Linked DNA regions of Homo sapiens. The protein of the gene in region 2 purifies or fractionates together with the protein of the main gene of each other region. This does not show direct contact. Each region holds a gene or a part of one and is shown on either strand. Other genes may lie near its edges.

Region 1 (3,500 bases), on a different chromosome or scaffold from region 2:
CAGTTGTGTGGTTTCTCTGGCCCTTGCCAGTAGGTTTCCTGCTAATGTTTTCCTTCTCTCTCTGCAGAAACTGAGAAGACAGATAATTTTTCCATTCATTGGTGGCCTATTTCATTCATTGGTGTTGGACTGGTTTTATTAATTGTTTTGATTCCTTGGAAAAAGGTAAGGGGCTCCAAAGCAAAGTTCAGCCCTGTGTCTTGGGCTAGTAAAAAGCTTTTAGAGCAGCTGCTGCCAACCTTACAAGCCTCAAGGGACAGGCCTGCTGGAAAGGACTTTGTCAGTCCCTCTTCACCATCAGGTGTTGGGAATGTTGGCTGTGTTCCAATCCAGTTTCCTATCACAGAGGACCTAGCTGTCACATACCATCTGACCTCTGTATGGTGGTTTGTGACTCTGGGGTGATGTGTTGTAAAGCCTCCCTCTCTTTCTCCATACTAAACAAGTATTATATCTCTGTGAATGAACCAGACTTTAGTGTTCAGACCAGGCCCTGAACTATGTGTGGACTGCTTGTTTTTCTCACACATTTAGAAACTATGGCTTAGAGAGGGGAATTCCTCATATTTTATCTGATCAATAACTGACCACCAGATCTCACTAGTTTGACTAAGAATTTCTAACCCTCACTAGGTATTTCTAAACTAAAACATGTTTCTAAACATTTTTATCCCTGACTATGGCCCAAATAGTAAATAAAACAGCTCAAGCTTTAGAGGCCCAAGAGACCTATGTAAATGTGTTGGTTAAAATAGTTTTAGATAATAAAAGGGCCCTCAATTATTTATGGGCCTGTCAAGGCAAAATCTGCACAACAGCCAGTACATCTCATTATAAATAATTTAGGAGAAGTGGAATAATCAGTCAATTAAGAAAAATGGCCCTTTATCTAAAGTTGGCCATTTAGATTCACGGGACTTATTCCTGTTGGATCTAGGCCATGAGAAAACTGGATAAAAAGTGGTTTTCAAATGTTTCTTGTGGTATTTGTGACTGTTGTCATATTTCTTGCCTTTCTCTGGTTCTGATATTCAGGTGCTATTGAGAGAGGAGGAAGGAAGAAACTAGTCAGGCAGGCAGTTAGGGTGGGCCCTCAGTCAAATTCCTTCAAACAAAAGAACAGCCTGAAAAATCAAACTGCAGATAAGGGAACTTGTACAGGGGGGCTTGCCTAAAACATGCCCACAGCCACATACATTAAAACAAGGCTACACAGGAGACTTGCCTAGACATGCTCACAATAGAAAATTCCATCCCCTGACACATGCACAGTAAGGGGAACAAAGCCACATGGAGTAACTCAAGCTAAGGGCTTGCATGCACACTACGAGGATGGGGTGGAGCTACCAGAAATGTGTGCCTTATGCCTTTGTATTCAGCTGTGAAATGGCAACCCTCTTTTGGGCCCCCTCTCTGCAGTGGAGTGCTTTCTTCTTTTGCTTATTAAACTTTCACTTCAACTTCATCTTTGGGGTCCGCGCTCCTTAATTTTCTTGGTCATGAGACAAAGAACTTCAGGTGATACCTTGGGCAATGAGAGACTGCTACATTGTGGTGCATTGACGAGACTAACATTTTGGTGCATTGGCCAGGAAACATTGGAAGGGTGAGTAGGAGCGGACCTCCAAACTCTTTACTTTCATTTCAGAGGCTTCTTGTCCTCAGATTTTTTCCTGAAGACTGAACAAAACACTGGGCCAGTTAAAAGCTTTTAGAGCGGCTGCCAACCTTATGAGACTTAAGATACAGGCTTGCTGGAGAGGACTTTGTCAGTCCCCCTTCACCCTCAGGTGTTGGGAATGTTGGCTCTGTTCTAATCCAGTTTCCTTTCACAGAGGACTTAGCTGTCACATGGGCTAGAAGGAGGTCCTGGGGCAACTGAAGGTTTCTGTTTGAGGCTACTCCTCAGTGTTACCTGAAGGTCCCTGGACTAACTCCAGCCCCCGACAGCCCGTCAGAATGTTGGCACCAGGACTTCCAGACTTTTCTATTGCATTTTCTTCCTTGCTTTTCGCAGCTACTATGTCTCCTATTCCTTCTTTGTATGCAATGTTGTGGGTGTCTTTATAGCCTGGGGAGATAATCCTGTTAAGCAAAGTCAGCAAGTGCCTTAGTAACGAGGAATGTAACTCAAATAATTGTTGTTTTTGTGATTTCCTTGAGACAGGGGGACTTCAAGATTTCAGCCTAAATTTTCACTTAGGGCCTTTTTGTCCCCCAGTGATAGACATTCATGGCACTCTATAGGGGGATGTTTCACCCCAAGTGAATACCCTTTTCTCCATCAGGTTGTTTTTCCTTCATGTAAGAGCTCAGCATTGCCCAATGAATTTAAGCATTCCCTCTATGAGACAAACTAGTTTTTTTTCTACTGGACAGCATATTATGGGGACAGCCTATTAAGCCCCAAACCTCCCTTTCTGACCTCTGCTTGGAAAGAATTTGTAGTCAGAGTTTTTTCCTAACATTTCAAACCCTATAGTGCTACCTAGTGGGATGGGATTTTTCTCTGTGAGAAGCCTTGTCAGCCCTTTGCCCAAAACCTCTAGTTCCCTGATTCCTTTCTCTCTTATGTCCCTCTTTCAGTGATCAGGCCCCATGCCCTATTTGTAAGCATAAAAACTCCTCTTTCAACAGCCAGGAAGAAGCTACCCTGGGAAGACATATTTTAGCCTCAGTGTTATCCCCATTGGAGGGAGAACAGCCATTCAATTTTTACATTCTTTTGAGGCATCTGTTCTGTACACAGCTACACTGGCATCTAAGTGAGAAAGGGATCTTGTGTTTAGAAATCAATCAGTCTCATTCTCTAGGAATTCATAACTTTGCCAGGGTGGTAGTAAGAGGATGTAAGGATAGAGTTAAGATGTTCCCTTCCTTAAAGGGTCTTGCCCCAATCCAACTACTGCACAATCTCTCCCATGGTTCTAGGGAATCTCAGGAGCCTTATGGGCCAAGTAGGTCTAGGAAACCAGCAGGGCAGAGAGCTAGGACCTTGTGCAGGTGAGCACAAGCTAGCTCCTCCGGATTCATGGGTGAAGGTCATGCTTTGATCCATGGGCAGCACCTATAATGGTCACCAGGAACCTGAGGAAATGGGAGGGAAGAGGAGAAGGGGGACGCCCCTTCCATTTTTCTCTCTGCTGTCGATCACTCCAGAAGGACAAAGGAGACTAAGGGATGCCTTTTCTCTCCTCTTTTTCTAGATATGTAACAAATCATCTTCAGCCTATACTCCTCTCAAGTGCATTCTGAAACACTGGAACTCCTTTGACACTCAGACTCTGAAGAAAGAGCACCTCATATTCTTTTGCACTCGGGCATGGCCGTCTTACCAGCTGCAGGATGGGGAGGCTTGGCCTCCTGAGGGAAGTGTTAATATTAATACTATTCAACAACTAGATGTTTTCTGCAGACAGGAGGGCAAATGGTCCGAGGTTCCTTATGTGCAAGCCTTCTTTGCCTTGCGAGACAACCCAGATCTTTGTCAGTGTTGTAGA
Region 2 (3,500 bases):
ATTAGCTGGGCGTGGTGGCAGGGGCCTGTAGTCCCAGCTACTCTGGAGGCTGAGGCAGGAGAATGACGTGAACCCGGGAGGCGAAGCTTGCAGTGAGCTGAGATCACACCACTGCACTCCAGCCTGGGTGACAGAGCGAGACTCCGCCTCAAACAAAAACAAAGAAAAAAAAAACACACTTGCCGGCCAGGCGCAGTGGCTCACTCCAGTGATCCCAGCACTTTAGGAGGACAAGGTGGGCAGATCACTTGAGGTTAGGAGTTTGAGACCAGCCTGGCCAACATGGTGAAACCCTGTCTCTACTAAAAATATAAAAACTAGCCAGGTGTGGTGGTGGCGTCTGTAATCCCAGCTACTCGGGAGGCTGAGGCAGGAGAATTGCTTAAACCCAGGAGACGGAGGTTGCAGTGGGCAGACACGGTGCCACTGCACTCCGGCCTCGGCAACACACTGAGACTCTGTCTCAAAAAAAACAAAAATAGAAAACAAAACAAAATACCCTCACAACTTCTCACTGCACTTAAAAGACAACATAGAAATTTTCTTTTTTTTTTTGAGATGGAGTTTTGCTCTTGTCACCCAGGCTAGAGAGCAGTGGCACAATCTCAGCTCACTGCAACCTCTGCCTCCTGGGTTCAAGCGATTCTCCTGCCTCAGCCTCCCGAGTAGCTGGGATTACAGGTGCCCGCCACCATGCCCGGCTTATTTTTTGTATTTTTAGTACAGACAGGGTTTCACCATGTTGGGCAGGCACGCTGCCTCGAACTCCTGACCTTAGGTGATCTGCCCATCTTGGCCTCCCAAAGTAGTGGGATTACAGGCGTGAGCTACCGCGCCCGGCCAGAAATGTTTTAATCTTGAATTCCAGTATATAATTTAATATTATTTAATGTTAATAATTTACTATTATTCAAGCCTGAAATAATCAACTTAACTTTTACAAGATCAAGACCTATGAAGATTTAAGTCAGTATTAAATAGATCAAGATTGCATTTAATTTCTTTATGAATCTCTATGTAACATATCTCTAATATTTCTGAAACAAATATTCAAACTGACTAATTTGACTAGGAGTTTAATTTTAATGTTACTTTTGAAAGCAACAAATTTAAGTCTTAATCCAAAATTATTATAATAGAGAAAATACAGCCTAACACTGATAAACAGATAAATATTTAACAGTACCTATGACATGTACATAAACTTAGGCTTAACCAAGCATTCCATTCCAAAAATAAATTAATTCATAATGTGTTTTTAGTAAAGGAACGTACCAATTCTTTTACTCTGCTCTTTTCTAGGTTGAAGTCTAATTTGGTATCTGTTCGGACTTTGATCACTTCATCCTAAAAGGAGGGCAAACAACAAAGAAGGAAAAATCCAAAGTAAGAAACCCAAACTCTATGAGGACGTGACACTGGGACCACTGCCCCCACTGTCCCTATCCTAGGCGAGGCAACCCAGGGAGGGAGAGAGCCAGGGGCTTCCAGAGAAATGGACCTAGGCCTCCTGGCATCAGGGAACTCTGGCCAAGCCACATCTGGAGGCAGCCTGTCCCAGGACTTCCCAGTTAGACACAAATAACCCCCTTCTATGCTTATGCCAGTCTAGAGTGGGTTGTTGCTGCCATTTTTTTTTTTTTTTTGAGATGGAGTCTCACTCTGTCAACCAGGCTGGAGTGCAATGGGGTGATCTCTGCTCACGCAACTTCTGCCTCCTGCGTTCAAGCAATTCTCCTGTACCAGCCTCCTGAGTAGCTGGGATTATAGGTGCATGCCACCACGTCTGGCTAATTTTTGTATGTTTAGTAGAGATGGGGTTTCACCATGTTGGTCAGGCTGGTGTTGAACTCCTGACCTTGTGATCTACCCACCTCAGCCTCCCAAAGTGCTGGGAGTACTGGCGTGAGCCATCGCGCCCGGCCTGTTGCTGCTTTTAACCTCAAGACTCCTCATACAATCTCCGAATGGAACTTATGAATAAAGCTGATCTTAAACAACTTTGGAAAGCAAAGATGGACTCAAAGCAGCAAAATATTAAAATCCAGTTTACATAGAGCCTTTTCTCTGATACATATCAAAGCCTTTTTTTCTTTAACATCTATGTTTTTTCTATTTAAAAAACATTAAATAGCTGGCACAGTAAGCATTTAAAAATCACGTGTGATTCTCTAAAGACAGTCTAAGAGAATTTAAGGGTTCCTTCCGTGCAGCACTTTAGAAAAACTTTTACTTAAAAATGACTTAATTCCTCCTAGAACACAATTTTCTTTTTTTTTTTTTTTTTTTTTTTGAGACAGTTTCGTTCTTGTTACCACGGCTGGAGTGCAATGGCGCAATCTCGGCTCACTGCAACCTCTGCTTCCTGGGTTCAAGTGATTCTCCTGCCTCAGTCTCCCAAGTAGCTGGGATTACAGGCACCTGCCACCATGCCCACTTAATTTTTGTATTTTTAGTAGAGACAGGGTTTCACTATGTTGGCCAAGCTGGTCTGAACTCCTGACCTCAGGTGATCCACCCACCTCGGCCTCCCAAAGTGCTGGGATTACAGGCATGAGCCACCATGCCTGGCCACAATTTTCTTAATGAATATGGTTACAGACAACAGTAATTCATTCATTGGCTGTGTTCTTAGCTAAATCTTCCAATGTGTACTTTTGAGGCATATTACACAAACATTTCACAAAGAATTAAGTTTTTAAAAACATCCATTTCTAATATTATACTTATTAATAAGTTTATATAATTACAAACCAGCCAACAAACAGGAAAGTGAATCTTACCATTACTTGTTGTTTTAACTGATGTAGTTCGAGTTTTATTTTCTAAAAACACATAAAAAAAAAGTCATTAGAAAGAACAACATAAAACGTAGTAACCAACAAATATTACAATACATATTTATGCACAAGTTCCTCAGGTTTTTCCTTCATTCAGAACACCGTATTGATTGCAGAATGGCATTACAACACACGTATCTTGAAATCAGTTTGAATTCATCTTGAAGGCTATGTAAAGTTAACTCAGTTGTGTTTGGCATACACATTTGCCTTCAGTGACCCTGCTTTATTTAGTATCTCCTTCGGTTTATCTTTTAACTAATCCTACCCTCAAATAACTGATTTCAAGAACAACCTAGAGAGTCTGAAACTTTACCACTTTACTTTTTGCTAGAAGGTTTCTTACAAGGCTAGGGTCAACAGGCAATAAATGGCCTTCCCTATTATGGGACTTTAAATAGGACCGAAAATAAAAGGAAAATGCATAGACAGCACTTATTTAAATGCTGATCCCATATGCTCTGTTTAAAGAAACACAAGAGATATTTCGCAGTAGCAATTATTCAAAATAACCAAAAACTGGAAACAATTCTAATACACATTACAATAAAATGATGGGGCCTATTGATGTTAAGACTATAGACAATGAAAAAAATGATCTCTTGCTACAAGACACACAGTATGATACCATCAAATGGTTCTAGAATAGGCGAAACTAGT

What was found.
Region 1: the proteins of MCUR1 (region 2) and NCR3LG1 purify together in Homo sapiens (co-immunoprecipitation; one large-scale study listed by IntAct). This does not show direct contact.

What each region holds. Positions count from the first base shown.
Region 1 is NC_000011.10:17,368,800-17,372,299, forward strand, and holds part of NCR3LG1 (natural cytotoxicity triggering receptor 3 ligand 1 precursor), read left to right. Parts: intron 1-67; coding exon 68-165; intron 166-3,206; coding exon 3,207-3,500. UniProt on the Homo sapiens protein: Triggers NCR3-dependent natural killer cell activation.
Region 2 is NC_000006.12:13,797,558-13,801,057, forward strand, and holds part of MCUR1 (mitochondrial calcium uniporter regulator 1), read right to left. Parts: intron 2,826-3,500; coding exon 2,784-2,825; intron 1,348-2,783; coding exon 1,276-1,347; intron 1-1,275. UniProt on the Homo sapiens protein: Key regulator of mitochondrial calcium uniporter (MCU) required for calcium entry into mitochondrion. Plays a direct role in uniporter-mediated calcium uptake via a direct interaction with MCU.